4 linked regions of the Homo sapiens genome follow. The protein of the gene in region 3 purifies or fractionates together with the protein of the main gene of each other region. This does not show direct contact. Each region holds a gene or a part of one and is shown on either strand. Other genes may lie near its edges.

The links.
Region 1: the proteins of STK35 (region 3) and CDC37L1 purify together in Homo sapiens (affinity purification with mass spectrometry; 2 studies listed by BioGRID and IntAct, with this or other methods). This does not show direct contact.
Region 2: the proteins of STK35 (region 3) and PRR14L purify together in Homo sapiens (affinity purification with mass spectrometry; 2 studies listed by BioGRID and IntAct, with this or other methods). This does not show direct contact.
Region 4: the proteins of STK35 (region 3) and UBP1 purify together in Homo sapiens (affinity purification with mass spectrometry; 2 studies listed by BioGRID and IntAct, with this or other methods). This does not show direct contact.

Annotation. Positions count from the first base shown.
Region 1 is NC_000009.12:4,674,806-4,683,611, reverse strand, and holds the start of CDC37L1 (hsp90 co-chaperone Cdc37-like 1), read right to left. Parts: upstream 4,044-8,806; 5' UTR 3,845-4,043; coding exon 3,713-3,844; intron 1-3,712. UniProt on the Homo sapiens protein: Co-chaperone that binds to numerous proteins and promotes their interaction with Hsp70 and Hsp90.
Region 2 is NC_000022.11:31,679,212-31,684,132, reverse strand, and holds the end of PRR14L (protein PRR14L), read left to right. Parts: 3' UTR 1-2,786; downstream 2,787-4,921.
Region 3 is NC_000020.11:2,103,687-2,112,321, reverse strand, and holds part of STK35 (serine/threonine-protein kinase 35), read right to left. Parts: intron 1-8,635.
Region 4 is NC_000003.12:33,436,494-33,445,752, reverse strand, and holds the start of UBP1 (upstream-binding protein 1), read left to right. Parts: upstream 1-5,347; 5' UTR 5,348-5,904; coding exon 5,905-6,017; intron 6,018-9,259. UniProt on the Homo sapiens protein: Functions as a transcriptional activator in a promoter context-dependent manner. Modulates the placental expression of CYP11A1. Involved in regulation of the alpha-globin gene in erythroid cells.

The sequences.
Region 1 (8,806 bases), on a different chromosome or scaffold from region 3:
TGTGGCAAAGCCCTTCGTGATGTTATTTCCCATTACCTCTTTAGACTCAGTTCCCATTGCTCTTCTACTTGTTTGCTTATTCTTCCCTTTCCCACCCTTGTCCCTCACTTCAATTTGGCAATCCTCTTTCTTCGAGGTAACTCCTACAGAAACTCCTATCTTCATCCAGATTCTGGCATGCCCTAAACTTTTTCTGACCCAGTGTCTCCCGACCCAAGTTATGCATATTTCTGTTGTGGTGTTTGTCATACAATATCATGCTTATTTGTTTACTGACTGGTGGTGGTAAACAATTCTGAGGCAAGTAGTAACCAAGGACCCTACCTCTTAGCTGAGTCTTCAGGCAAACTCACGTTTGTACTGGGACAAATGTGGACACTTGCTATTCAGATGTTTTATTTACTCATTCAGCAGGTTTGGAGCCAAGGTACTATAAACCATGTCCCTAAGTATATTTTATAATATATATTCATATATTATAAAATATATATAAAATATATTTTATATATAAAAATAAAATATATATATAAAATATATAAAGTATATTTTAAAATATATTTTAAAATATATTTTATATATAAATATAATATATATTTAATATATATATTATATTTTAATATAAAATATTTTAATATAAAATATAATATTTTAAAATAAAATATTTATTTTTACTTTTTGTTATCTTAGAATAGGATCAAGAATAGTTATCTTAGAATAGGATCAAGAATAACTGTAGACTAGCTATGCTTAAAACAGAGCCAGGAAAAGGAGAAAAATTAAGCTATATAACTTATTTTGTAAGAAAAGATGTAAGAACTTTTGTATATAAAACTTCTTTTGGCTGGGCTCAGTGGCTCACGCCTGTAATCCCAGCACTTTGGGAGGCTGAGGCGGGCGGATTACCTGAGGTCAGGAGTTCGAAACCAGCTTGGCCAACATGGCGAAACCCCGTTTCTACTAAAAATATTTTAAAACTTAGCTGGGCATGGCCGGGAGTGGTGGCTTACACCTGTAATCCCAGCACTTCAGGAGGCCGAGGCGGGCGGATCACGAGGAGGAGCTCGAGACCATCCTGGCTAACGTGGTGAAACCTCATCTCTACTAAAAATACAAAAAATTAGCCGGGCATGGTGGCGGGTGCCTGTAGTCCCAGCTACTTGGGAGGCTAAGGCAGGAGAATGGCATGAACCCAGAATGGCAGAGGTTGCAGTGAGCCGAGATTGCACCACTGCACTCCAGCCTGGGTGACACAGCGAGACTCCATCTCAAAAAAAAAAAAAAATTAGCTGGGCACAGTGGTGGGCACCTGTAATCCCAGCTACTCAGGAGGCTGAGGCAGGAGAATCACATGAGCCTGGGAGGCGGAGGCTGTGGTGAGCCAATATCGTGCCATTGCACTCCAGCCTGGGCAACACAGCAAGACACTGCCTCAAAAAAAAAAAAAAAAAAAGAGAAAGGATAATATATCAAGAAAAGTAATATGGTAATATGGATAAATAGAAATTATCTTGCATTTTCAAATTATTTGGGAGCAAATATTCTTTTCTCAAATCGAAAAATTCTAAAAATAATGTATGTCTTATTTCTCCACAAACTACCCAGACAACATTTGGCCATTTGGGCAAACTATCCAACATGTATTCAGATATTAAATAAAATATTAGGTCACATTCTAATCCATGACCATACAGAAGTTTTAGAGGGACATTAAACATGATCTGCCTTTACATTAATTGGATCTAAGAACTACATATCACATACTACATTAAGAAGTCTAGATCCCCCTTATTTGATAAAATTAAGCCAAAGCTTTTTTTAGGATTATAAAATGTTAATCAATTAAACATTTTATTTTTTCCAAATATTCCAATCCAAAAATTTAAGTCTTAAAGCCAGTAAGACCAATAAGTAGGTTTGTAATAAACACATGAACTCAGAATTAATAATCAGTTTGCAAAAAAAATTTTTTTTTTTGAGACAAGAGTTTCGCTCTTGTTGCCCAGGCTGGAATGCAATGGTGTGATCTCGGCTCACTGTAACCTTTGCCTCCAACAATTCTCCTGCCTCAGCCTCCCGAGTAGCTGGGATCACAGGCATGCGCCACCACACCAGGCTGATTTTGTATTTTTGGTAGAGACAGGGTTTCTCCATGTTGGTCAGGCTGGTCTCGAACTCTGGTGGGCAGTGCAGTAGGTGGGAAAATATACTGGACTAGGAGTCATAAGTGGGTTCTAGTTTTAACCTGGCCACTAACTAGTTACATGGCCTCAGGGAAAACACTTTTAATGAGAGAGATAAGCTTACTCACTTCTAAAATCTCTTCCAGCTAAACAAATTTAGAAGTGCACAAGTAAGAAATTAACATACAGATATTTCTCTAGATTACTTCTGTAATTCAACCACAATGCACTGAAATTCTTGACACCCTTTTTTCTCTTCATATGCCTTCAAAATTGACAATGGCATCTGCTGTTCATTCTTCTTTCCTCCCTAGCACATCATGTGCTTATAATACATTTTGTATATAAAGATGACACTAGTGATCCAAAATTAGTGGGTGACTAATGATGGACCCATCAACTCTCATTCTGTCCTCCTAAAAAATGTCTTGTAGTTCCCCAGTGACTTAGCTGGCCAAAGTACAGACAGTGGTTATGAAACAGCATTTTTCTCTGTGTGAAGCCAACTAACCCTGTTAGCTGGACATAAGATTGATAATGTCACGCTTACTGGTAAGCAATTTAACTCATTCTCATTAACATCTAGCAAAATAAGTTGAGAGGAAAACTACTATTAAATCTGTTACACTCTTGGGAACCCCATTTTGCAAGAAGGCGGCAGACACTTATGATCCATTGAATATATTAGTGTTTAGTCTGTGATTCTGAAATATACTTCCAAAACACACACGGATTCGGAGAAAAAAACAGGACAAGGTGATGCGAGTATGTAAGTATCCCCTAAGATAGGTCCCTGAAAAATCCTTAATAGTATATCACATTTGGATACGTTTCAGTCGCAGGAAGGCAGGAATGCTGGATTGAAAACACAATACCAGGAACCTAAGAGAAGTCTGAAGGAAAACACAAGTATATGCGTATATATTTTCACTGGAGAATGACGTGAAGCAAAACTAAAAAACAAAACAGTAAGGCAAAGATGGTCACGCGAATGGGAGAGGTGTACGCCAGCGTCAAAAGCGAGATTTAAAGAATTTACTCAGTTGTCAACATCGGTGAAAATCGCATGTGAAATCTTTGTCAGGACTCAGTGTGATGCTGAACTACAATCATTCACTGTTCCTAGCAACTGTGCACAAGTATGCTAGAGCCTTTAACAGAATAAAGTGCTTGGGGAAAACCTCTCACAAGAGGACAAAGGGTCAATGTTACAGCATGAGCCGCCCCAAATCTGAGTGCTGTCAGGAAGGGGAGATGGAGGAAGGTATTCCAAGAGTGAACAGGAATCAGCCAAGGCGAAAGAAAACATGTGCGTGGAGGTGGAGGTTGGTAATATATGGCCACCCCGTCTGCCCTCCGAAGATGCCATAAAAGGGGTGGGATGGCATCAGGCGTCAGGTCCCAGGTCCCCGGCCCCTGGCAGTGAGGTGGGCGTAGAAAAAGGCGTAGAAGAGGGTCTGGGAGACGCGGCATTCCAGGGGTTTGGCGACAGCACCACTCCATCCCTCCGCAGAACGCAGGCCCCTTCTCACCTGGGCGCCGCCGCCTGGCAGCTGCGGGCAGCGGGGAGAACTGGGGAACACGTCGAAGTCACTCTCTTCCTCAGCCTCACCCTCGGCCCGAGGGAGGCTCCAGGGTCCCGGAGGCGGCCACGGTTGTTCCATGTCCGGCTGCTCCGGGTCCTACAACCGCCCTTGGCCCTACAACTGCCACTGCCAACAGACTTGGCGTGAATGGAACCTGCTGCGCCGAGCCAGAAGCCCAGCCGGGGGTCCGGGCCGTTACCCAGAATCCCTCTACTGGCCGCGACGCCGCTGCACACCCGGCGACAGCCTGGGCCTCGCCACCGGCGGACGGCGGAAGAAATAGTCGGCGCGGTGCGTCACTTCCGGTTGGGGCGGGGCTGTGGAGGCGCGTCCCGGGCCCTTTGCGTGTAGTGGGTGGATCTGCAATTGTATTCCTGTTTCAAGCCCCGTTTTCTTGCAGCTCTTCGGCACTGCAAACCTAACCGCTAATGGCGCTGTGGGTGGAGAAACGTTTGTTAGGTAGCGTTATATATTGTTATCTGGTGTTCCCTATACCGAAAACGGCGGGTCCTGGCCGCCGGGAGGTACTCAGACCAGGTGTGCACTTTACATGTTGCTTAAAAATTGCAACTCATTCCTTTACATTGACATTTAAACCAGTGATTCTAAGGCAGAGTTGGGGCGGAGGGAGGAGAATTTTGAACAAGCGGAGCCAATTTTCGTCTCATTTCTAATTACAGGCAACAACAGAATTCTGCGAAACTTGGTTGGTTGGAGGAGCACACCAAAAATAAAGTACCGGAGCCGGCACGGCTTCAAAAAAATTAGGATCAGTACCGCTAGTAGCGAACGCATAAGAAGGGCTTCCTGTATGCCTGCGTATCTTGTTTAAGCCTAAAGATATGTACTCTCTTTATCCTCTTTTTTTGAGACGAGGAAGTAGACCCAGCATGCCCGAGATCACACATTTTACAAGGAAGAAGTAGGATCCAGACCCAGGGAGTTTAACTTCAAAACTTGAACGTTTAACAATCAGGTCTTGCTGCCCTACTCATAAAGAGACCCAAATAAAAACAACATGACGCCATTTTTTTCCATGTGTTTAGACTGGCAAACTTGTGAAGTCGCTTAATACCAAATGTGTACCAAGATGTAAGGAAATGATGTGAGAATGTCATTAGTATAACCTTTTAGGAGGAGTAATTTGACAATATGAGAGGCTTGAGCGGATTGATTCAGCAATTTCACCACTAAGAAAGTATGCAACAATTATTTTTGCACCAATATCCAAAGATTTACTACAAAGATTTCTGGCAGCAATTTTTGTGTGTGTGTGGCAAGAAAAAAAAAAGCATTCTAATTGTCCATCGATAGAGGAACTTAAAGTATGGAATATTAATACAATGGCATATTACCCTTTTTAAAAAAAGTAAATTGTATCTGAATATGCTGATATATAAATACCTCCAAAAGGTATTGAGTTTTAAACAAAGCAACTTGCAGAATTAAACATATGCGTACGTATACAGAGAGAGAAGAGAGAGGGATGGTATTTGTTTGCGTCCGTGTGTGTGTGTGTGTGTGTGTGTGTGTGTGTGTGTGTTTGCGCAGAACATTCCTGGAGGATATGCAAGAAACTGTTAATGATTACCTCTGGTGGGTGAGCCTAGGAAGGAAAGCTTCTGAGGATCTTTACTTTCCACATTTAGCTTCCCTGTACTGTGCTGTTTGAATATTTTTCCAATGAATGTATACTATAATTATAGTATTATAACAGTACAAGATTATAACAGTACAAGATTACTATAAAATTAATTACAAATAAAAGCTGAGAATCACTTTTGCACCTAAACCTTTTGAATTTAGGGGTGAAAGTCACAGGAGAGACTGGAAAGGGAGGAAGAAAAGAAAAACATTTTTCTCTTTGCTTCCATGAAGCCACAAAGTGCTTTGAATAGTGCCTGGCATAAAGTAAGCCCTATATAAACGCTAATGCTGTTAGTTTTTCTCCTACCTCTTTCACTACTTCTCCTCAGTCTTCTTCCCTTCTAGCTGACCTCTAACTTTAGAGTTCCTCATATTTTGGCCAGTGAGGAGAATCCTGTTTATTCCTGTGGCTTTAAATAACATCTGTGTATCTATAATTCTCAAATTGAAATCCAAGTCCTGACCTTACCCCTGTGCTCCAGACTCATGTCTACCCGCTGATTTGTCATCTCATTTTAATGGTTCATACACATCTTAAATTTAACACATCCAAACCCTTGATCTCACCGCCTTCCCCAAACTTCTTTGGGTCTTCTCCGTGTCAATCAATGGCATCACCATCCAGTCCAAAACCTAGAGTTCAGCCTTAGTTCCTCCCTCTCCTTTACCTCTCATACCAACAGCAAGTCCTACTGTTTTTACCCCCAAATACATCTTGAATCTATGTTCTTTCCTGCTTTACTGCATACTCCCTAGGCCAGAACACTATGATTGCTTCTCAGAACTACTGCAGTAGTCTTCCATGCTTCTGTTCCATTCTTGCTCCTTACAATCTCTTCATACTGTTGCCAGAGAGATTTTTAAAAAATACATAAATCATATCATGTCTCACCCCTGCTATATCAATTATATGCTTTCAATGCAAATAACTGAAACCTCAGCTAAAAGAAACCTAAACTATAAGGACATTTATTGTGTATGTAACAAAAAGAATGATCCCAGGATAGGCTTAGCAGTTTGAAGATGTCATTAAATATTCAGGTTCAGGCCAGGCGTGGTAGCCTACACCTGTAATCCCAGCACTTTGTGAGGCCAAGGCGGGTGGATCACTTGAGGCCAGGAGTTCGAGACTAGCCTGGCCAACATGGCAAAACCCCGTCTCTACTGAAAATACAAAAATTAGGCAGACCTGGTGGTGCATGCCTGTAATCCCAGCTACCCGGGAGGTGGAGGTTGCAGTGAGCTGAGATCACAGCATTGTACTCCACCTGGGTGACAGAGCGAGACTGTGTCGCAAAAGAAAGAAAGGAAAGGAAGGGAAAGGAAAAGGAGGGGAGGGGAGGGGAGGGGAAGGGAAGGGAAGGAAAGGAAAAGGAAAGGAAGATTCAGGTTCTTTCAATCCCTATCCCTCCTCCCCAGCATCCTAAATCTGTTTACTTTCATCTTCAGGCTTCTTACATCATGGTTGCAGGATGGCTGCTACAGCTCTGGACATCACATCAAAATATGGCAGAAGCTAAAGCAGGAAGACAGAGAAGGAGGCAAAACAGCTTTATTCACTTGTGGCTCTCATATGAAGAATAAAGATATTTCTCGAAACCTTCTAGTGAAATCCTTATATCTTATTGGCCAGAACTGGCTTACATAAATTATGATTTGTTGTCTGGAGCTGGATGCATTGCTACCTAAACAAAACTGGAGTTCTGTTAGCAAGGAGGAAGAGTTTGTGGCAGTAAGGTAGGCAATCACATTCTCTGCCATAATTGATAAAGTTCCTGTGAAACCTAGTGGCACCCTAATTCCTGAGTGTCATTCCTTTCTTTTTTTTTTTTGAGATGGAGTCTCGCTCTGTCTCCCAGGCTGGAGTGCATGGACTGCAGTGGCGCCATCTCAGCTCACGGCAACCTCCACCTCCTGGGTTCAAGCGATTCTCCTACCTCAGCCTCCCGAGTAGCTGGGATTACAGATGTGCACCACCACACCCAGCTGATTTTTGTATTTTTAGTAGAGACGGGGTTTTACTATGTTGGCCAGGCTGGTCTCGAACTCCTGACCTCAGGTGATCCGTCCGCCTCGGCCTCCCAAAGTGCTGAGACTACCGGTGTGCACCACTGCACCCGGCCCTGAATGTCGTTTCTTAAACCCTCTCCCTAACACCTTCCTTGCCCTCTCCCACCCCAAAATCTCTCTTGGACTCCTTTCAGTTCCTCAAACATGGCAGTTCCTTTCCTAACTCATGGCCCTTTCGAGTTGCTATTCCCTTTGCCTTTTCTCTTACTTTGAAAGGCTTGCTAGTGGTCATGCTTTTCTTCTTAGATCTTAGACCAAATCTCATACTCTTAGGCCAATCTGGCCAGTGAGTCTAAATGAAGTTCTCGTTTCTTCTTCAACCTGTTCTATTTTACCACCTTGTATATTTCCTTTCTACTATTCATCATACTATTATTTTATGTTCACTTAGTTATTATGTTTCTTACCCCAATAGAATGTAAGCTCCATGAGAGCACAGATTGTTTCTTATTCACTCTTGTACTTACATGGCTCAGAACAATACCTGGCTTACAGTAGACACTCAATAAATGTGGGCTGAATAAATGGATAGAGAATGAATGAATGGAAACAAGGATAAAAGAAAAGGTTAAATAAAGGCAGAAGGTGGTGAAAAAGGAATAGAAAGAAGTATATTTTGGTAGGAGATAAGGAGTGGATATAATGATATCAGAAGTAGCCTCATCTTGAGCCATTGCTGACTTCAGGATCTGAATCCTGTGCCCTGGCATAGTAAACACTTATTTTTGGAAACAGTTCTTGCTATGTTACCTAGGTCGGTCTCAAACTCCTGGGCTCAAGAGATCCTCCTGCTTCGGCCTCTCAAGTGGCTGGGATTACAGGCATGTACCACCACGCCCAGCTCCAGTAGACACTTTTTAAACAAGTCTTGGAACTTAATCATACACTTCTACTTTCTTATTTTGGATAATAAATAAAATTCCTTGGAAATTGCTTTGGGTCATAATTTGCCTATTACTCCCATGGACATAGAGCTAGCCAGCTGAAACTCAAAGGAGCAAATTAGGTTTTTTTCTGAGTAGAAATTACTTTTAAATGGAAAGACTATGTAGTCCAAAAAGCCCAAGGGCAGCCCTTGTGGAAGGACTTGTGTTGCATCATTATGTAAGCATTGAGCCTACAAATGCCAGTAAATGAAAGCACAAGCCAAAGAGAAACATGAGTCTGACTCATAAACTCTAATAAAGTTGGGTGAAACAGAACCCATGTGTGGGTCCACATCCCAAATGACTTCAAGATTGTTAAAAGCTGTGCAATTGCAATTTGATTCCTTCCTTGGAAGATTCCTGGAAAATTCTTGAGAAGTGTGTATATGTAAAGAAA
Region 2 (4,921 bases), on a different chromosome or scaffold from region 3:
AGTCCTGTGTGTCCATATCCTGCTCCCCTTCCCCTCCTTCTCTAGGGGTTTCTCTTTCTCTCTCAAAACAAGAGTTTAGAGAATTAACATTCCATGGCTAGTGAGTGGGATGCAAAAGTCATCGTCAGGACACCAGCATCACCTCTTCATATCCTCCTGGGAGCCACTGGCATGGAGCAGCCGCCGATGGGAACCGTCAGAGTTCTAGGGACATTTCCAAGTCAGTCTATTAGAGAAGAGTGAGTGGCACGTCCTGGAATGTTGGCCAACTCTCCTAGGTTTCTTTTGCTTCCCCATTTGCTAGTGGATGGGGAGATGGGTTGGGGGTGGGGGGTCTCTATGTGCCTTGCTTTTGCAGGTTGACAGTCTATGCCACACTGGAGCAGAAAAACTGACATGAGCCAGAGGGAAAAGTGTGCCACGGCTATGTTCTAGGCCCACTGCCTCAGACATAGCATTGAGACGAGTGAAATACACACTTGGTCATCCACGGAGGCTTCCAAGGCCATGGCCAAATACAGTTAGAAGAGAGCCAGGCTTCCGTACCAGCTCTGAATGATGCTAACCAGATTCTGTCATTCTACATCCACTTTGCCCAGACTGTATAGACACGACCTATGTTTCACCTCAATACCTCTCCCTTCCTGGGACAGGGTTCTTAGACACTAAATGCTTCTCTCTGACTTTTTTGCTTAAGGGAGTGGGATGAGTAGTACATTTTGCCCTTGTCCAGGCATGTTTAAGGAGCTCCTACTGGACAGGTTGCAGACTAGCAGTGAGTCAACAGAGCCCTGTTTGCCAGCTCTGTTGCCAGTATAGATGCAGTGATGTGGCGGCTATGTTTCCCAGAGACAACAGTGGGCACAGCTATAGTGTCACCAACATGGCAGAGATAGTTTCAACTGTGCCTGTTACAGGTGTGGCACTCGAAGGACCAGAAGCAGCGGTTTGGAACATGGGTAACTGGGAGCAGAGGACTGGAAGAAACAGAGCTGGGCTCCTTCCCTGTCCTGACAATGTAGGAGAGGAGTTGTTGTGAGGCCAGCCCTGCCCGTCGTTGAAATTCTGGACCTACCCTCTAGCTAGGTCCCTTCCCCTGCTCCAAAGTTGAGAAGGGGGCCCCACTGCAAACTTGAAATTACTTACCTGAAGGTGATGTATATACCTAGGCTCCAGCTGCGCTCAGCCACACCTGTCTTAACATTCAGTTTCGGCACTGAGCCAGCTGCAGTGTTGTCAGGGGTCCCCAGGCCCGTGGTCCCTAACCACGATGGGACATGGTAATCGGCTGCTGGCACACCACCTGCCCAGAGCTACAGGAGGTCTGGTTCTGGGGTGGAGTTGGTACAGTTTCTGAGTATGGGAACTTCCCTCCCCAAGTGGTGGGAAGTTACAGTTAACTACAGCTTACTCAACTATCACTTCCAGAGGTTTAGTGTTTTTAATATGGGAAAGAGGAGAAATCTCAGGTCTAATCAGGGTTCTGCCCATCAGCTTTTCACTGAAACTTTCAACTGTGTTTTGTTTTTTGTTTTTTTTTCCATCTTTCAGTTTCTAGCTGTGTTTGCCTTCTCCCTCCGCGTTCCCTCCTCTTTTTTTGCTTTTGGTCTCCTTTCCAGCTTCATGTCTCCATGAGTTCAGCTGTACCTCATCTCCTGTTAAAGCAGATCATGTCCACTTTTTCTTACTGACCTTACTCTAAGCTACAGTAGCTGAGGGAGGTACGGTGAAGACATGTAGCGTTTGCCTTATTCGGAGCCTGAGGAGCCCAGAAACCCATGCTGTGAATCCCAAAACTCAGCGCTCCTCAAGAGCTGTGAAAATCATGATACTTTGTCACAATTTTGCCTGAAAGGGTCTTTGGCACGGGCTCCAGAGCCAACCTGAGGTCCATTCCAGATCCCACTATCTGGGCGTGAGACCTCCCCCGTGGCTCCTTCCTTGCCCACTGAGCCAAGAGCAGCAGGGAGCGTACAGGACGGGAGCAGCAGATCCAAGGCCGCGGTGCAGCCAATGAATGCACGGCCGTCGCTCCGTCTCCAGGCTGGAATTCCGTCTCATAATCAATGCCATGTACATTAAGATCTGCGAAAGACCAACTTTTAGGCAGTGATACTTTTCTCCCATTCCCTGGGGTGGGGGGAGTATGCAGTTGGTGCTTTCTGTAATTCCCTTGTTCTGTTTTGTTTCTGTAAGCTTTTCCCCTGGTGTCATGGAAAGGACTTCTTAAATAACCACATTGTGGGTGGCTGTATCCAAAGTTTAAATAATTGGCCAGAAGTGCAGAGTATCCTTTCCTGGATTCGTGTCAGAAAAGGGCTCCTTGCCACAACTGAACTTACTGTATAAAAACCTGGCTAGGGAGATTTAATTTTACTAAAATTACAGTTTAATGTTACCGTCTAGCCACAAATCAAGCAGCAAAAGCTATTTTGATGATGAAAGGGGGTCCCCGTTGAGCTGGCCATCTAGTGCAGTGTGCTCTCAGATTCCATGTTTGTTGATTGTGTGTCTTCACAAGCCCCTCTCTGGTGCTGAATTGGATTTGAATTCTTGGTGAGAGGCCTCAGCATCTCCTTGGGCTGGTCTGGGCCAGTAAAAATAGCTGCCTGACATGTTTATATATTATCATGGTCAGTAGTTCAATGAAATTTGTACATTTTTGGTAACATTGGTATACATGATGCCCCTGCAGTTCCTTTTCTGTTTGGTAGTTTGTGACTCTAAGATTTCCACTGTTATGTGTGTTAATTTATGAAAATAAATTTTTTTGAAAACCTTTCAAATAACTCTCAAGGCCGTTACTTTGTTCTCGTGGCTTGGCAATAAGTTAAAATAGACATTCCAAAGTTATATGTCACAGTAAGCATCGTTCCTTCCAAAGTGGTCACCATTTTCTGAGGAGTATCCTGTTGTAACTGTGGGACCAGCTCAAACTGATTAACCATTGCTTAAGTTGTTACAGGTGAGACAGCCAAAATTGCCTGAGCGTGCACAGTGGAAAAAAGCTTTAACGTTTTAATTGTTACCACCACGAGCCTGGCAGGCCGACTGCATTGGCATCACCTAGGACTAGATAGGAATGCCATAAAAGCTTGACCCACTTCCAGATCAGGGAGACATTTGAGCATTGCTTCCTGTCTCTGTGCCAATTGACTTTTTTTGGGGGCGGGGGGTGGAGTTTCACTCTGTCGCCAGGCTGGAGTGCAGTGGCATGCAATCTCAGCTTATTGCAACCTCCACTTCCTGGTTTCAAGGGATTCTCATGCTTCAGCCTCCCAAGTACTGGGATTACAGGCACCCACCAACAAGTCCAGCTAATTTTTGTATTTTTTTTAGAAGAGGGTTTCACTATGTTGGTTGGGCTGGTCTTGAACTCCTGACCTCAGGTGATCCCCCCACCTCGACCTCCCGAAGTGCCCGGATTGCAGGCGTGAGCCACTGAGCCCAGCCTCATTTACTTTTTTTGAGACAGAGTTTCACTCTTGTTGCCCAGGATGGAGTGCAATGGCACGATCTCAGCTCACCGCAACCTCCGCCTCCCAGGTTCAAGCGATTCTCCTGCCTCAGCCTCCCGAGTAGCTGGGATTATAGGCATGGGCCACCACGCCTGGCTAATTTTATACTTTTAGTAGAGACGAGGTTTCTCCATGTTGGTCAGGCTGCTCTTGAACTCCCAACCTCAGCTGATCTGCCCGCCTCGACCTCCCAAAGTGCCAGGATAGCAGGTGTGAGCCCCCGTGCCCAGTCCCTCGTTTACTTTTTAAAAGATCTCACCACTTAATACTTGTCCTTCCCAGCTGTTTATGAGGTTACGCTATGAATCTTCTGCTTCTCATTTAGCCAATGGAAACTGGTAAAAGAATGACTGAAAACACCTCTGTAACACCACACTGATATATTCCAGAAAGAAGCATGATTCCTGGTGACATTCTTCCTCTGCCCAGAGCAAAAGCAGTGAGTGCCCAGTTTCCCTTCTTGGCCTCAGAACTGCAACAAGGAATTCTATCCATGTAGTCTTCTATTTACAGAACTTAACTGCGTGACAGCTGTGCTTCTTGTTAGGTTTCATGGTTATTTGGAGAAATGTACTCTCCTACACCATTTCTTGAGAAAAGAGTTGCTAATTAACAGTTAAGGCAGTATAATCTCTTTAACCTCTCATTACAGAATCTTGTGTTGGTAGAGCCTGGTGAAGACTGATCAAAACTAATTTAAGGCTGAGCGCTGTAACTCATGCCTGTAATCCCAACACTTTGGGAGGCCGAGGCAGGTGGATCACTTGAGGTCAGAAGTTGAAGACCAACTTAGCCAACATGGTGAAACCCCATCTCTACTAAAAATACAAAAATTAGCCAGGCATGGTGGTGCACGCTTATGATCCCAGCTACTCGGGAAGCTAAGGCTGGAGAATCACATGAACCTGGCAGGCAGAGGTTGCAGTGAGCCAAGATCACGCCACTGCACTCCAGCCTGGGTGATAGAGCGAGACCCTGTCTCAAAAAAAACAAACCACTGATTTAAGAATCCTGGCCAGGCGCAGTGGCTCACGCCTGTAATCCCAGCACTTTGGGAGGCCGAGGCAGGCAGATCATGAGGTCAGGAGATCGAGACCATCCTGGCTAACATGGTGAAACCCCGTCTCTACTAAAAATACAAAAAAATTAGCCGGGCGGGGTGGCGGGTGCCTGTAGTCCCAACTACTCAGGAGGCTGAGGCAGGAGAATGGTGTGAACCCGGGAGGCGGAGCTTGCAGTAAGCTGAGATCGCACCACCGCACTCCAGCCTGGGCGAAAGAGCGAGACCCTGTCTCAAAAAAAAAAAAAAAAAAAAAAGAATCCTCTCTGTGGTGTCCTGTCCTCTTCCAGCAATGGAAAACACATTTCTATTTACTTTCCCTTTTTTTTTTTTGAAACAGTCT
Region 3 (8,635 bases):
AGTCATGGAAATTCATCAGTAGTGCTTAAGTTCCCAATAAAAACATGGCTTGCTTCGCTGAAAAACGTGAGGCCAGCAGGCTCAGCATAAAGACAAGCCAGTAGGAGCTTTGGAAAGACAGGCACTTCCTGTAAAGAAATACAAAATGCTCTAGATTTTTACAAGCCTATCCTTAAGCCTTCTCCAGAAGTTAGATTTCCAGGTTTTAGTCAACGCCACTTCAACAATTTCTGAGCACACATTGCTCTTGAGACAGAGGTGCGGTGAGCTGAGGGGCATCCCTGCCCTTACATAGGCTTCTGGTCATTAGAAGCAGAATGACTACAGCTGTGAGAACTAGGAAGCGGGCCCGGATCTGCCAGAAGAGTTGGGAGAGAAGCTGGGATGAGAGGAAGGCAGGCTGAGAATAACTGCGAGAGGCCCTGCAGCTGCGTCTCCCAGGATGAGGGGAGTGGGCACAGGAGCAGGTGGGTGTGCGCCAGGGACACGAGTAGTCTGGATAATCACAGAAGAGTTTCTGTAGATGTGCCGGAATGAGGCTGGATATCTTCTAAGGTGGATTTAGACTCCAAGAAATGGGAAGTGACTGAAAGTTCTTAATACATTTTATTTATTTACTTATTTTGAAACGGTCTAGCTCTGTTGCCCAGGCCAGAGTGCAGCCAATCACAGCTCACTGCTGCCTCTACCTTCTGGGCTCAAGGGAGCCTCCTGCCTCAGCCTCTCGAATAGAGTAGTGGGGATTACAACCATGCACCACCACGCCCGGCTATTCTTTTCTATTTTTAGTAGAGACAGGGTCTCCTTATGTTGCCCGGGCTGGTCTTGAACTTCTGGGCTCAGGCAATCCTTCCACCTCAGCCTCCTTAAGTACTGGGTAATTATAGGCATGAGCCACCACGCCTGGCCACTGACGTATTTTAGAGATGTGTCGCTTACAGAATCTACAAGTCACCAATTTTAAGGCATACCATTTAAGTAAGCCATATAGGCTGCTGACAACGCTATGGGCACACCATTGACTAAGTCAACCGCTGATTTCAGAGACGTTAAACTGTGAAAGAGCATATCTTGGACAATGAAACAAGTTCCTTATGGAGGCATGAGGGGTTGGCGATGGGAGACAGCCTAGTGGCCGACTGACTTATCAAGAGGCTCTGAAACCTGGTGAAGTGAGGGCTGGCAAGGGAGGAGGTGAGAAGAGGATGTGAAAGGTCTTAGAAGTTTAGGATAAATAAGATTTAATAACTTGTCACATAAGATGGAAAGGAAGAATTCAGAGAGTGCTCTGCCATTCCTCTCTGGTTACTCGAAACTGCTATCTATTCAGATAATAATTACATTTCCTCTCACAGGTGAGGAGACTCAGGAGCAAAAGATTAAGTAACTTGCCTAGTTGAGGGCAGGACCTTGAGTTTCCATAGGCTAGATTCTCAGCAGAAGCACTGTGACTGCCTTAGTGCCTGCAGCAAAATCGCACACCTGGATGTGCTAGTTCCCACAGCAGACTCTGATGCGTGCCCCCCAGAGTTTAATGTTCATCCAGTCCCTCGTGATGGTCCAACCACACAACATGCAGATCTGTCTTTCAGCAGAGGACTAATTAGGACTTTGACTTACGCACACTTCAGCAATTCAGCAATACATATAGGAAGTCTTAGAAATGCTCGATCCATTTGAAAGAAAAATCCCACTTGAGGAATTCATTCCAAAAGTGTCAAAAAGACACAAAACAAACAAGCCTCCCCACCCAACAAAAAAACACACACCAAACACCAGAGACACTCAGAACTGGTATTCCATACAGAGTAAGTCAAAGTGGAGGATTGGAAAACTACTGTCCAAGAATGAGAATGAGTAACAGTTAACTATGGTAATACCAATTGGCTGAAAGTTTTAAAGGACCATATTATACTTCAACAAAAGTTTACTTAAAAAGCCAAAAGAGAAAGTCACATAGCATGTAATAAGCAAGTTTTAATGTGAAGGGGGGAAAAGGGCAGAATATTAAAATTATAAAGTTATGTCTTAAGAAAAAGGATGAGGGAACCCCGAAAAATGAAGTTTGAATAAATTATGACTATAGCCATCCCTGTTTAATTAGGAGTTGTACATTAAAATATTTTAGTTAAAGAGCTGGCTCAGCCAAAGATCTGTCCTAAGAAGCTAAAGACACGGACCCATCCTGGCACATCTTCCCAAAGAAATATGAAAATGCAGACCAAGAATTGGTCCCATTCTCAATGATTTTGTGCTGTTATGTCATTATAAAGAGGCTGGGTACCATAGCAACACCACAGGGTGTGTCCAAAGTACTTCCTAAGATTAACAGACTTGTTCTGTTGGCTGCCAGGGCAAAACACAGTGTCCAAAAGAGGACAAGAGTAAACCCACCGGCCGGACAGGGGCTGTAAAGCCAGCCAGGCCTGGGGTCAACATTCCCTCTACTACCTGCCCCCAATCCCCCAATTACATAGCTATATGATCCTGGGCAAATTTCTTAGAACACTAAGAATCTGTTTAGTTTTTTATAAATTGAGAAGAAACACCTACAGCACTGGACTGCTCTAAGGCTTAACTGTGACATACAAAGCACCTTGAATGGTGCCTGGACACTAGAGCAGACTGCTACTGGGTGTGAATTATGCTAATGTCTCTGGACACCACTGGCAGCTGTCCAACACGGTCACAAGGCAGCCTGTCAAGAACATGGACACTGGAAAGAGCATCTGGATGTAAACCTAGGCCCTGACCTTTCTCTAGTGTTGTGCTGGACAAGCAACTTGACCTTGATGGACACTGACGTTCTTGTCTGTAAGAACAAGTTATATAAACACCAACTTTACAGTGGTGATGATTAAATGAGAAAAGGAGTATGAAAATACTACGAAATGCTAGCTATTACTACTTGGAACATTACAGGGGTTTGTTAAAATGTAGAATCCACCAGCCAGGCAGAGAGTTGGGGTACCCCTAATCCATGGCAGTCCGGGCTCAAGTATCTCTCTCCATATGCATGGGCCTTGCCACACACCTAAGCCTCAGCTCTTGCCAGGCTTGTTTCTGATTTACCCTTTTACAACTCATCCTTCCTTTCCCCAGATTTAGTCCACATTCCTGGCAGCTGATTCACCCAGAGCACCTCTTACAGGCTGCAGTGAAGTAACATCTATTGTACTGTAACCATCTCTTCCATTAGACTGGGCACTCACGGTGGAATGAAATCAAGTCTCTGGGTTCCCCACAGTATACCACATGCACACCTAGGTGGTCGATAAGAGGGTGAAATAAATCAAGATAAAAGTCATGCGCTGGAGAGGTGTAAAAAGAGAAAGAACACAGAAAGTAGTAGTAGGGTATGCAGAATATGCAAGTTAAAGACAACTAGGTCAGGATCCAGAATTTAGAAGTCACTAAGGAGGGTTCCTAGCCCTACAGATACCAGCAAAGGCCACATTTGAGGTGAATATGAGCAGACTACAAGTTCTACTTAGGAAGCACCCCTCGAGAGTTTATACTATAAAAAGCCTTACCCAACGCAACCCCAATTAACCAAAGCTCTCAATTAAGGAAGGGCTGCTTCTGTCTCCTGGGGCTGGTACCTAAAATCCCCAATGCACATAAAAAGTAGTCGGTCAGGAGCAAGAAGTCTGTGTGGTTGCCCCAAGTCATTCAAGAGTAGAGCAGAGAGCAGGTGGGGTCCCTGGCAGCTGAGACACACAGAAGGAACCAACAGAAATCAGCAGTGCCACAAGCACTGATCAATATACAACTAAAAACAAAGAGGAGCCATTAGTTTCTTTCTTTTTTTTTGGAGACAGTCTTGCTCTGTCGCCCAGGCTGGAGTGCACTGATGCGATCTCAGCTCACTGCAGCCTCTGCCTCCCGGGTTCAAGTGATTCTCCTGCTTCAGCCTCTTGAGTAGCTGGGATTACAGGCGCCCGCCACCACGCCCAGCTGATTTTTTGTATTTTTAGTAGAGACAGGGTTTCACCACTTTGGCCAGGCTGGTCTCCACCTCCTGACCTGAGGTGATCCGTCCACCTCGGCCTCCCAAAGTGTTGGGATTACAGGTGTGAGCCACCGCACACGGCCTGAGCCATTAGTTTCTGAGTAAAATATGATTATGCCCATTTTACAACCAAGAAAAACAGAAGAACCTAGAACTTAAGCTACCTGTCCCAGCAGTACCCCACAGCAGTTAAGAAAGCATACTCAAGTTTGAATGTCTGGCCTTGAATCCTGACTTGGTTACTTGCTTAGCTGTTTTACATTGGGCAATTTCACTAACCTTGGTACCTCAGTTGCCTCACCTATAAAATGAAGATAATCACGGTACTGACTTCACCTGATACATAGCAACCTGCAAGTTTCAGCTCTTATTTACAGGGTGAAACTGGGATTAAAACCTTCTGACTCTGAGTCTAGCATTTTATTGTATTGTGTTAACTTATATTTCCCCAATGCCAGCCAGCTCTCTGCCTCTTGACCTGGCGGCTCTCTAAACTCTGAGACCCAAGCCACAGAAGAGGATTCAGAGTTGCTTTTCTAAGGGCTGGGGAGGGAACGGCCTTGCTCTGCTCTGAAGGTTCCCTAGGCACTCGACAAGTTGGGGAAGTTTGCAGGCTGACAACCCATCTATTGCTAAGACCCTGGTCTATCCTATACTATTATAGTTCCTCCCTCAGCTTCTTCCTTCCCCTGCTTCCCCAATGCCCCTAACTAAACTCCCAGACAACTGTACTATTTTCTAAGATGCTACCACTTGTGACCCTGCATTATGTTCATGTGGGCATGCGTCCTCTGCATGCCTCGTGGAGAAAAACTCTGCATGGCCTCTTATAGTAGCCTGGCTCAAAGCCACTTGGTGTGCAGGCAAGATTACTTTCCAAGGCCTCGGTTCCCAGCCACCTAAAGGCATCGACATCAAACAATTGGTAAAGAACAATTAGTGTCTTATCAAGTTGAGTGTAAGCTAGGCTCCCGGCTCTCCCAAACTTCTAACTATTCTGTTATATGAGTCTTGAGAGTTTGTCCTGGATTAGTGTCTGTGAGTGTGTCCTCACTTGCTATTTGTCAGAAGAATCAGTGTGTGCCTTAGACAAAGCAACAGAATTTCTGACTGACAGTGACTCAGGCTTGCCTGCTGTCTAAGTGGCAGTAATCTTGAACTTTGTTTTAGGCACATTCAGGACAGGCATTCTCGCAATGGAAAACAAGGGGATAAAAGCAAACTGTTGATGCCTTCACCCCCCCAACCTTTATGTGAGAAGTATTTCAAAGTTAAAAACATAGGCACCAACCCTTCAACCAAATAATTTACAGGATTGTAAATGTGGTTTTAAAAAGCCTGGGAGGCTGGTTTGAGTGCTATCACTAACTCATTGTGGATAAAAGTTTTGTCCCTTTTCTGGGCTTCAGTTTCCTTCCTTGTGAAACAGGCAGCCAGGTCACACATCTAAGACCTCTTTCTATTCCTCCGAAGCTTCTGCTGTCTTAATGCCTCTGGGTAGGACGTGTTTGGTCTGTGCACAGAATGGAAGGAGACAATGCATTTAAGGCTATCAAACAAAATGGGGTAAGACCAAGAACAGCATTTCAAGACATTTCTCTTTTCGATACTGGATTATTTTACTGGCCAAATAGTGAAACGGACTCCCTTTGTCTCTTCGCCTATCCACAGTCCTAGGCACCCTACTTTCAAGCCCACCTTCTCCCTAACTCCTGATTCTCTTTCCTCTTAATTCTTGTGCAAAGCCCTTGCTTATGAGTTGACTGGTCATTTCCTCCAGTGATCTTGAATAGCATTTAAATCTTCTTCCAGTTCTCAAACTTTTCAAATGTAAGTTCCATTGGGGCAAGGGGTGGTGTGTTTTGCTTTGCTTTTTTTCTTTCCCTTCAAATACCACAGTAGGGACTCAGCATTAGGTTTAGTTGAGACTTCAAGGCAGATTCACACTTTTTGGCCTGTTCAAAATCATTCTGAGTTTTAGGAGGCAGGGCCAAGGGTGACTGTAAAGGACTTTTCTATTTAATGAGAGAGCTGAACCAGGTTATCTCTACGATTCCTTCCAGCTTTAACATTACTGGGTGGTATTTGCATGCTGTAAACCCAAGGCCCCAGGACAGATCAAGACCCCTAAATTTTGGAATCCAGAATAAGCAAAGTTTAACCTGGAGTAATTTTGGTATCTGTTCTCTATTTTAAGAAGCAAAAATGATTACCTATTTACTACTTGAAAAATCCACACATTGCAAGTCAGCTTGAATGTCATTTTCATAAGCAGAAACAACACATATTTTCTTCACTGCTCTGTCTCTGAGCCCTGAACACCGTAGAGGTTCAAATATTTTAAAGACTCCAAACAACTGAAAGGGACCAATCCAATCCAGTGTACGGCCTAAAGCAAAAGATTTCATTTTTCTAGGTCCCAGTTTTAGTTCACAAAGGGAGGATGAAAACACCAGTGTTTCTGTCAACTTGGTGTGCCTGACAACACAGAAAACAAGGTGTGTTCTATGATGAAACAAGTTTGGGAAACTTGAGCAAGAACAATGTGAATCTTGAAGGGGGTGAGGGTAGAAGAGTACAGAACATGGTGTGAACTTATATAAGGCAGTGAATTCCTCCCTATGTGGAGCACTTGCTGACATTAACAGTTTGCACAGTGACCCTATGTACCTAATGTCATAGGTACATACCCACTATCTTACAATAAAGGAATGCTCCTCACAGGGTTCAAACAATTTGCTCCATGTTTTGTGCAGTCAGTCCTGGGATGAGCCAGAGGGTCTAACCCCAAAGTCCATGGTACTAACCACTATGCTATGCTGCCATGGGGTCACTTTGGAATTTTGACAAATTCTTCAGGTGAGGAAAGTCCACATAGTATTTATATGTTGAGAGAGTAAGCAAGAGCTTCAAGCTGAGGTTGAAGGTTCGAGACTGGCGTCAATGAACTGAGGACACAAGGAATAAACATTCGGCAAGGCAAATTCCTACATCCCAAGGCAATCCTGTAGTAGGAAGTCCAGACCATTCATTGGCAGTAAAGGAGAAGACTAAGAGAAGTCTGAGAATAGAAAGACTTCAAAGTAAGTGATGCGCTCCTAGAATATAGGTAAGATAAACGAATCCCCTAGGGAGTCTTTTTTTTTTTTTTTTGAGACAGGGTCTTGCTCAGTCGCCCAGGTTATAGTGCCATTGCATGATAATGGCTCACTGTAGCCTCAACCTCCCAGGCTCAACTGATCCTCCTGCCTCTGCCTCTCAAGTAGCTGGGACTATAAGCCTGTGCCATCAGGTCCGGCTATTTTTTTTTCTATTTTTTGTGGAGACCAGGGTCTCACTTTGTTGCCCAGGCTGTTCCCAAACTCCTGGGCTCAAGCCATCCTCCCACCTCAGCCTCCCAAAGTGCTGGGATTACAGTCGTGAGCCATTGTGCCCTGCTGGAAGTCTTTTCAAAACAAAAACACTCACCCTGGGGAGAGGGTAGGCTTCTCAGAATGGATGGGGCACGGATGGACTTTATAAAGTTAGACATCTAATTAAAGGACTCTAGGTGATACTGATTCATGTTTCCAACTCCACTGTCAAACAACTGACTTGCAATGGGACAAAGCGTTCTCTTGGGAAAGACTTGGGGGATCTTTAAGTTGTGCAAAAGTAACAAGATTTTGGGAAACCACCCCCTCCAAACTCACCCCAAATCCTACCCACTCTTAAAAAAGTTCATCCTCAGGGTGCAGAGAACAGCATTACGCCTTCGAAAGGATCCAGGCCTCGAATCAAGACAGATCTGGGATCCCCGTCACTTAAGCTCTGAGAAATGTAAGGAAACCAGGAGTACAGTCTAACTTCCCTTTCAAGCGGATTAACCCTGATCAAGTTATTTGTTCACTTCTAAGCCTTAGTTTATTTATAGAAAAAGGATAGAATTTACTTTTGAAGTTATTACCTAAAAATTACTTCAGCACTGAGACCACAGCTGGGACTCGGATTAGTAAACTTTCTTCCCCTGGATCCTCCTGCCTCGGAAAGTCTCCTCAAACTTTCTACCGCCTCTCTCCTCTCCAAGCAGACACTTAGCTACTGGTAGTATGAAAAAGGCTTGTGAGTACTGAGTAGTTAGGATGAATACATTCCCTAACTGCAGTTAAAACCCGGAAACTAAGATAATTAGTTCCTCCAGGACTGCAAGACCTCTTGCCTCAATGTACCCCATTTTCCTTTTAAGTAAAACCACTTCCCAGCCAGCCTCTGAGGTTAAGAAAAAGATTAAGAATGTAAAACGGAGGGAAAAGATGCCGGATGCTTTGTTATGTGACAGCTCTCAGGCCACCTGTGAGGGTTGTCAGCCTGCACCCCTCAGAGGACCAAGCCAGAAGACAGTCAGTTTGCTCGGCTGCCTGGGATGAAGGGCCGGGGGCCTCAGAGGAAAAGGCAGACGAGGAAGCCACAGGAGTTTGGGGGTTGGAGCTGGAGGGTGTCAGGAAACTTGGAACCAGACAGGGAGAGGGTGTGGGTGGGTCCAGTCAAGTTTTTTCTTTTTGTTTGTTTTGGGAGGGAAAGAGAGAGGCCCTCGGGGGTGAGGAGGCTCCGCAGTTCTGCTACTAACTGAACCCGACCCCTCCT
Region 4 (9,259 bases), on a different chromosome or scaffold from region 3:
CAGGCATGATGGCGGGCACCTATAGTCCCAGCTACTCAGGAGGCTGAGGCAGGGGCATCACTTGAACCCAGGAGGAGGAGGTTGCAGTGAGCCGAGATCGCACCACTGCACTCCAGCCTGGCAACAGAGCAAGACTCTGTCTCAAAAAAAAAAAATTAAACAATTAAAAAACCCCAATATAGATAACTGATGTTAATACCTTTATTACCTCATAATCAGTCAAAAACTTTAGTCCACTCCTCTTAACCAATATCATAAATTTAAAAAAAAACATTGCCAGGAGGCCTTCAGTCTTGTAGATACAGACATCATTTATTGTCTCTTTTTCCATAATTTAGAATAAATGAAGCAATGATTAGAAATTTATCCCTCATGGCCAGGCATGGTGGCTCACACCTGTAATCCAACACTTTGGGAGGCTGAGGCGTGTGGATCACATGGTTAGGAGTTCGAGACCAGCCTGGCCAAAATGGTAAAACCCTGTCTCTACTAAAAACACACACACACACAAAAAAACAAAAAAACCTGGGCATAGAGGTGCACGTCTGTAATCCCAGCTACTCAGGAGGCTGAGGCAGGAGAATCACTTGAACCCAGGAGGTGGAGGTTGCAGTGAGCCGAGATTGTGCCACTGCACTCCCGCCTGGCAACAGAGTGAGACTCTCTCAAAAAAAAAAAAAGGAAAAAAAAAGAAATTTATCCCTCATGGCCGGGCGCGGTGGCTCACACCTGTAATCCCAGCACTTTGGGAGGCCGAGGTGGGTGGATCTCCTGAGGTCAGGAGTTCAAGACCAGCCTGGCCAACATGGTGAAACCCCATCTCTACTGAAAAAAAATATACAAAAAATTAGCTGGGCATGGTGGCGGGTGCCTGTAATCCCAAAAACTCAGGAGGCTGAGGCAGGAGAATCACTTGAACCTGGAAGGCAGAGGTTGCAGTGAGCCAAGATTACACCATTGCACTCCAGCTTGGGCAACAAGAGCAAAACTCCATCTCAAAAAAAAAAAAGGCCGGGCATGATGGCTCACGCCTGTAATCCCAGCACTTTGGGAGGCTGAGGTGGGCGGATCACAAGGTCAGAAGATCGAGACCATCCTGGCTAACATGGTGAAACCCCGTCTCTACTAAAAACAGAAAAAAATTAGCTGGGTGTGCTGGCGGGCACCTGTAGTCCCAGCTACTCGGGAGGTTGAGGCAGGAGAAAGGCATGAACCCGGTAGGTGGAGCTTGCAGTGAGCCGAGATCGCTCCACTGCACTCCAGCCTGGGTGACAGAGCAAGACTCCGTCTCAACAAGTAAAAAAAAAAAAAAGAAAGAAAAAGGAAATTTATCCCTCATAGTAGACTCTATAGCTGACTCTACTGCAAAGGCCATGGCACAACAGACTTTAAGTTCTCTTGCTAAAGTTGTGCTAGATAACGGAATTGCTGTATATTACTTACTGAGATACAGAGAAGTATGTATCTCTGTATGCAGATACTTCTCTGTATCTGCATACAGAGAAGTATGTATCTCTGTATGCAGATACAGAGAAGTATCTGCAGTTGCTCACACTTCTTGTTGCACAGAGATGAACATATCAGGTATTATAGAGATTCAGTTACAGGGGATTAATAAACAAGCTGCTTGGTTAAAACAGCTTGATCTTTTATCTAGCTCTTTCTTTGATCTATTTGATTTTAGTTAGTTTAGTTCATGTTGACCCTGGCTAAGGGGCATACTCCAAAGTCTTGGTATTATCCTCTTGGTAATCTTAATAGTAGTCTCCTATGTGCACTAAGGACTTTCAAAAGTTTTAAATGTTTACATACAATCATCCATAAAATGTCCATAAAATTTAAATAAATAAAAATTCCAACATAATAAAAAAAAAGTATCCTCTACTCTAACGCTTACCAGAAAATAACCTAAAGTCCTTATTCGCACCTTACAAAACCCACTGTTGTACTATTTCCCAATGGGATTTGCGACCAGATAAGTACATTTACAATGGTCAGAAAGTAATGTCAATGTCTAGGATTTTGGTCAACCTCTCTATTTTGGTCAAGTTGAGAGGTTGAACAAAAGGGGAGAAATTGTTAAATTGAGTTTAGCCTAAAGTTGCCTCCTTATAAGTTCAGCCTAAAGGTTTCTCTGTACACAGTAAATTGTAACCTAACTGGATGTATAAATGGTCTATAACCTATTATAACAATCGCTGAGTTTTGGCTAATTACAGGAGGCCAACTGTTCAAATAATACACTCAACCAATCAAGCTGTTTTTATATCTCACTTCTGTTTTCCGTACATCACTGTCCTTTTTCTGTCCATAAATCTTCTTCCACCATGCAACAGTGTTGGAGTCTCTCTGAACATATTCTGGTTCGGGGTGGCTACCTGATTGACAAATCTTTTTTTTGCAAAATTAAACTCTTATATTTAATTTGTCTAAAGTTTTCTTTTAACACTATCCTTCTTTTATATTTTGGTCTCTTTATGACATTACTATTTAGCGCTGCTTGATACTTCTATTTTTTTTCCAGACAGGGTCTCATCTGTCACCCAGGCTAGAGTGGCATTATCATGGCTCACTGCAAGCCTTGACCTCCTGGTCTCAAGTGATCCTCCCACCTCAGCCTCTGGAGTAGCTGGGACCACAGGTGCAGGTCACCATGTCTGGCTAATTAAAAAAATTTTTTTGGCCAGGAGCGGTGGCTCATGCCTGTAATTCCAGCACTTTGGGAGGCTGAGGCAGGCAGATCACGAGGTCAGGAGATCGAGACCATCCTGGCTAACACAGTGAAACCCTGTCTCTATTAAAAATACAAAAAATTAGCCTGGTGTGGTGGCGGCCGTCTGTAGTCCCAGCTACTCGGGAGGCTGAGGCAGAAGAATGGTGCGAACCCCGGAGGCGCAGCTTGCAGTGAGCTGAGATCGCACCACTGCACTCCAGCCTGGGCAACAAAGCAAGACTCTGTCTCAAAAAAAATTTTTCTTTTGTAGAGGCAGGGGTCTCGCTCTGTTGCCCATGCTGGTCTCAAATTCCTAGCCTCAAGAGATCCTCCCCTCTTGGTCTCCCAAAATGTTGGGATTACAGTTGTGAGCAACCATGACCAGCCAACACTTTTATTTCTATCCTCCAGAACTCTAATTTTTTTTTTGTTTTTTGTTTTTCGTTGTTGTTGTTTGTTTTTCTAAGGACAGGGTCTCATCTTGTCATCCGGGCTAGGGTGCAGTGGCACAATCATAGCTTACTGTAGCCTCAAACTCCCAGGCTCAAGTGATCCTCCTGCCTCAGTCTCTCTCAAGTAGCTAGGACTACAGGAGCGTGCCATCATGCTCAACTAATTTTTTTTTTCTTGTAGAAGCGGGATCTTGCCATGTTGCCCAGGCTAGTCTCCCAATTGCTGGCCTTAAGCCATCCTCCCAAGCTTTAAGTCTTGGTCTCCCAAAGCGCTGGGATCATAGGCCTGAGACACTGCCCAGCCTGAGGCTCAATTTCTAAATATTTGACCCAGTACTTCCTTAGGGCACAGCCTGATTGAAAAATTGATGGTAGCTTGTACTTTTACACTCTCTCCAAAAACCAGAGAATTATCTTCCCCCAATTCCATTTCTCCAAATTTTCCAACAACTAATAGTAGGCCTGGCTAATCTGGTTATAGACTAGGTTATGCAAGTGAGGTGAGATCATGGAATGAAGACATATCTGAGACCCCCAATGAGACCAATGTTTCCCTTGACTATCCAATTGTTTGTGCAGATTTATTTGTAATAGTGGAATGGAGCTTCCTGAACTGATGGCCAATCTAATGTTTTCGCCTGGAATCAGAGAAATCTGGATTAGTCAAATAGCCCCGGTTTACCTGCTTACTGTGTGACCTTGCACTGTGTAATCTTTACACATTTTCACCTGAATTACCTCATCTCTAAAGTATGGCTTTATCAAATGAAATGTTTGCAAAAATGTTGTGTAAAGAGAAAAACATTCTCCAAGTTAATTTGTGGTTTTTTTTTTTGGAGACCGAGTGTTGCTCTGTCTTCTCCCGGGTTCAAGCCTTACTCCCGCCTCAGCCTCCTGAGTAGCTGGGATTACATGGGCGCGCCACCACATCCAGCTAATTTTTGTTATTTTTGGTAGAGACGGGGTTTCACCATGTTGGCCGGGATGGTCTCCTGACCTCAACTAATTCACCCGCCTCGGCCTCCCGAAGTGCTGGGATTACAGGCGTGAGCCTGTAAGTTAGTATCTAAATCACACAGGCGTTGAGACTATTTTTTTCTGGCTCAGTGCCACTGCTTTATTAGGCTGACATTTTAATCTATGTATTTTTGCACTTAAACTGGCAAGTTGGGGCGGGGCGCTCAGCATTTGGGTCTTATTCTTAGGCAGTAAGTTCGATGCAGGGCGAAGCCCGGGCCTTGACGTTCTCTTCAGCAAGGATTCCGCCCGTCAAGCGCCAGCAGCCGCTCCTAAGGAACTCTGATCCGCACACTGGCTCTGTAAGTCAGCCTCTGGCTCCTGCTTTCTATTTCATCTCTTCCGGTAAAAAGATTTCTGTCTTTTGGCCGCAGTGGCGCGTGCCCACGCTAGGTCGCTGAGGAAGACCCTTCGGGCCTTCTGAGCAGCGTAGCTGTTACTGTGGCACGTCCTAATGGTTCGGTCCAACTTCAGGAGACCGCCTGCCCTTAGGATGACCAACAGCTAGTTCAACTCAGGATAGCCAAGCTGCTCTCGGCAATGCAACCAATAGGGGAAGTCTTTCCAGAGCTCTTTCTCAGGAGCGTTGATTGGCTTATTCTCACGCCAATCAAGGTTTTCTGCACAACTGGCTTTTCTGTCACCAGATGGGGTGCAAACCGCTCACTCCCTCGGTAGAGAGGGCATAAAGCAGAGACGACCGGGAAATACCACAGAGGAGCAAATCACCTCCGGAAGTGGCGTTTTGGGTCGCTTTCTACCATGCAGTCCAATGAACTCTTTCTTTTGGCAACAAATTCCGTCTTCGAGCCCGCCCAAGGTGAAGAACATTTTGATTGGTTGTTTAGTCGGGGGACACAGAGACTCACGGGAGCTTCGTCCAAGCCCTTGCAGGTATTGCTCAGTTGGCCTGTCAATCATCTCGCTCGCTAGAAGGGGCGGAAACTGGCAGCCCTTTTGGCACCGCCTCTTCCTGGGCTGCTGTGCGGGGACGCAGCGAGGCCACCCCGGCTGGGAACAGCCGCGTGGGCGGGGCCGCATTGCACTCTCTGGACAGTTCCTGGGCCGCGAGGCGCGGGGAGTGGCCCTAAGCGCGGGGCTGTACGGGGAGGGCCGAGGCGTGGGGCGAACGCCGGGGCGGGGTCGGGGCGGGGCCGGGGGAGGCGGAAGCGGCGCGTGAACCTAAGTCGGAGTCGCGTTGAAGCCAGCGTCCGGCCGGCAGAGCGGCGTCGGCGGGGTTGGCCGGGGCGGTGTGGCGCTAGAGCCTGGGCGGGCCGGGGGCAAGGAGTCAAGGCTTGGGGGCGGGTGACGGGCGGGCGGAGGGCTTGCCCCCGTGTGGTCCTCGGAGCGGCCCGAGGTCCAGCCTCCCAGCGGTCCCGGAGGAGGATGCGACCGGGGGGCCCCGGGCGGGGCGGTCGGCGGCGGCTGCAGCGCTAGCGGCGCGGGGGCTGGGCGGCGGCGCCGGCATGAGGCGCAGGGCCGGTGTCCGCGGGAGGGTGGCGCTGCCGGCGGCCCGGCCGCTCCCGCTGCAATTGCTCGCTGGGCTCGTCGTGCCCTGCCAGTGGGGCCCCCGCAGCTCTCGTCCCGGCCGCCGCTGGTGACCACTCGCCGCCCCTCCGGAGGCTTCACCCGCGCCCTCCCCCAGGACGCGCCAGCGGAGCTCCGGCTCCTTCGCCCTGGACGCGGAGGCCGCGGTGTGCGGGGCGACGGCGAGGCCGGAAGATGGCCTGGGTGCTCAAGATGGACGAGGTGATCGAGTCCGGGCTGGTGCACGACTTCGACGCCAGCCTCTCGGGCATCGGGCAGGAACTGGGCGCCGGCGCTTACAGCATGAGGTACTGGGCTCCCTGGGCGGGGAGAAGCCTCTGTCTCCTTGGGGAAGGCCTGCGCAGCCCTGAGTCTCTGCCAGATGCGGCTGCTCCCAGAGGTGCGCGGGCCTCCTGGGCTGCGGGGTCGGAGTCCTGCCGCGTGGCGGTCGGGGGCCATGGAACCCCAAAGGCCTCTGCTCGCCCTGGTGACGGGCGGGTGGGGGAGGATGGCCCCGCAAGCGTCGGCCTCGGACCGCTCCTGAGTGCTTCATATTTGCTGTAAAACACGCCCAGCTATTAGGATGGCTTGGGTTGGTGGGGGAAGGGGCTTCTTTTCCTTATAAGTGATTTACAAGTCCCATTGGAGCTAGAATACACTGTACGAAAAGGCAGCACTTATATTGGGAGAATACTGTCTAGCGTTTTGGGATCAGTTCCTACTTTGTTGTCCTACATTATGATCTTTTCTGGCTGCAGATTTTAATCACTTGATGTTAGTAAATTATAATTGAAAGAGCAGCGGTGGGAGTAGCACTGTGACTTCGTTTTGTTCTTTTGATTGTCTCAAAGTGAAGTTTCTCATTTTGGAGACTACCCTCTCAGGCTGTTTCCTCTTGAGGGTTTTAAGATGCAGTGATTGCACCACAAATAATTGTTTAGTCTCTGCTGTCTGTACCAGCAGTCATTCATTTTAATATGGAGAGATTGAAACAGATCTGAGCTTAGTCTCCGCCCTTTATCCTTTTTAACTGTTAGGAATTTGGAAACTCTGTATTTTTTTAGTGGCTTTATTGAAATATAGTTTACCATAGCGTTGACTTGACTAATAAAGTCTAAAAATCAGTGGTTTGGCAGCTTTTCAATAATGTGAATTAAGTGTAGCTTTCTGTTCTTTAGAAAATGTCTGATGTTTTGGAAGTGCTCTACAGTTTCCCAGTAGCATTCATACATCTTACTGCAGCTCTAGAGGAGGACTTCTGGGTTAAAGCTGGCCTGGAATCTTGGTGGCTGCTCCTTGAAGTAATTGGGTCTTTAAATCTTAAGGAGAAATTCTGAGCCATAAAGAACTCTCAGAAAGGTTGGAGACATTTCTTGGAGTGTGGAAGTGAGTAGTGGAAGGCATATTAAACCTGGAGTTCCCCAGCGTCTGGCTCTGATTTGGTCTCTGTTGGGCTTCCTGAACTTGGCACCTCTTCTCTCTGCAGTTGTATAACTTAAGGCCTGTAGATGAGTTGGCTTATTTTCTAAAACAGCTGTTTCAGTTGTTGAGGAAATTGAGCTACTGAAAGTCATGGAGTCACCCCAGAGGGGAGTATTAGAGGCAGTGCTTCTCTAGTGAAAACGCACTCCTCTAGTGCCATTCTGCTCCTTAGCTCTCTACTGGAAACACGAGGCTTATAGTCAAGGCAAAGGAGGCACGTGAAGCAAGTTCAATATGTGTCTCTCCTCAGTTGCTTCTCTTTTATGGTAAAATGAAAGTTTGCTGCTGAAAAGTTTACTTATTGATAGCTATTTTGAGCTTTTACTTTTTTCTAGGGTTTTATTTGACCTGTACTTTGATTTAGTGATTCAGCCAACTTATTAATGTAATAACTTCTGTGTATGGTTTATTTCCATGAAAAGGAAGTACAATCTTGATGATTTTAAACCTTTCCCTGACCATGTATTTTTAAAGTAATGTGTGAGATCTTTGTAATTCTGTGTAACCTACAGTACTCTTTACAGGGATAATTTTCCCTTGAATTCTTTTTTGGTTGTGTCATTTAATCTAAATTTTCAAAGAAGTTTGAAGGTAATTACCATTTTTAAGAAGGTTTTTTTTTCGTATTTAATTGAGTCCTCAAAAACTAAGAGATGAGAGTGCTTGCCTCTTGCAAATTCAAGGCCCTTTGTTTGAAATTCTCAAACTAAGGAAATTCCAAAATTGACTCGATAAGGAGAAAATCTGAAGAAGGCGTTAGCTGCTGCAGGCCTCCCTGGACTGCAGTTGTACTTTCCATGCCTGGCCCTGGAGCCCTGAGAGGGTTGGAGTGCCTATGAATGGCCAGCTTGAGCATTCAGTCACTTCCTCTGGCATCCAGTGGGAAGGAAAGCTTATCTTTCAAAGTTCAAGAAGTAAACTTGAAGAAATTACTGGAAAAATGACTTCTTGATACAAATTGATTTTGTAGGCAGCTTTCTATTTTTCTTTCAAAATGAAACATGCTTACTGTATTTGCTTTTTGGATGGCTTAAAACAAGAGGTATTTCTTAAAAGACTTCTCTTAGGGAATGGTTTCCTCATCTTTTGGGAGGATAGTTTGAAAGGAAGAAATGGCTTCTGTCAGTGGTCTGACTTAAAATTAGGCAGGTGTGATGTTTGGTATGCTTGTAGACCTAGCTACGTGGGAGATTGCTTGAGCCCAGAGGTTCAGGGGTGTAGTGTGTGCTATGATTGCACCTGTTAATAGCCACTGCATTCCAGCCTGGGCAAGAATGAGACCCCCTTCTCTTTTGTTGTTTCCCCCCACCCCTTTCTCTTAAAACAGTAGGAAAAATATGTTTGTGTAAAATAATGTAGGCTGGTAATATTGGGAATATATTGGGGCTAATTACTAACATTACCTTTGCTTCTCTTTTTCTTTTGGCTCTGGTTCTCATGTGTTCTGTGTGTGCTGTTGTATTATACTTTTTTGTTGTTGTTTTTGTTTAGTCTTTTTTGGTGGTTATATTTGGATGTGAGATGTGAACTGCAGCAGATTCTATTTGAAATGAGGCAGGTCATAAATGTTTTTAAAAATCTTGGTTACAGTAACAGGATTTTAGAGATGGATAGAGACCTTCCTTAGAAACCTTTTAGAGTCTAGACCACTCCTTTTCTTATACTGTAAATGCATTATCTGAGGGTCATAGATGTTAAAGTGATTGGCTTAAACAGATGAAGGCTGATTTTTCCCCCACACAGAGTGAAGACTGAAACTCATGGTAACTTGAAATCTGGGTCATTCTCGTTTTGTGAAGTATGGAGTAGATAACCAAATGACTTTAAAAAATAATACTCATTAAAACTCAAAGAGGGTCTTTGGACCACCTGGTAATTTTCTTTCCATCTCACTGTATGAAATTTATCATCTGTAGCCAAGTTAATTTTTAGGATTTGGGGGCTCAATATTGAAATATTTTTGAAGGTTATAGGAAGTAATGGCTTGTATAGCTTACTCTTTTAAAAATTTTGATATTAAATTATTACTTTAAAAAAGGTATTGTCTGAGCCCTGTTTGTTAAACTTC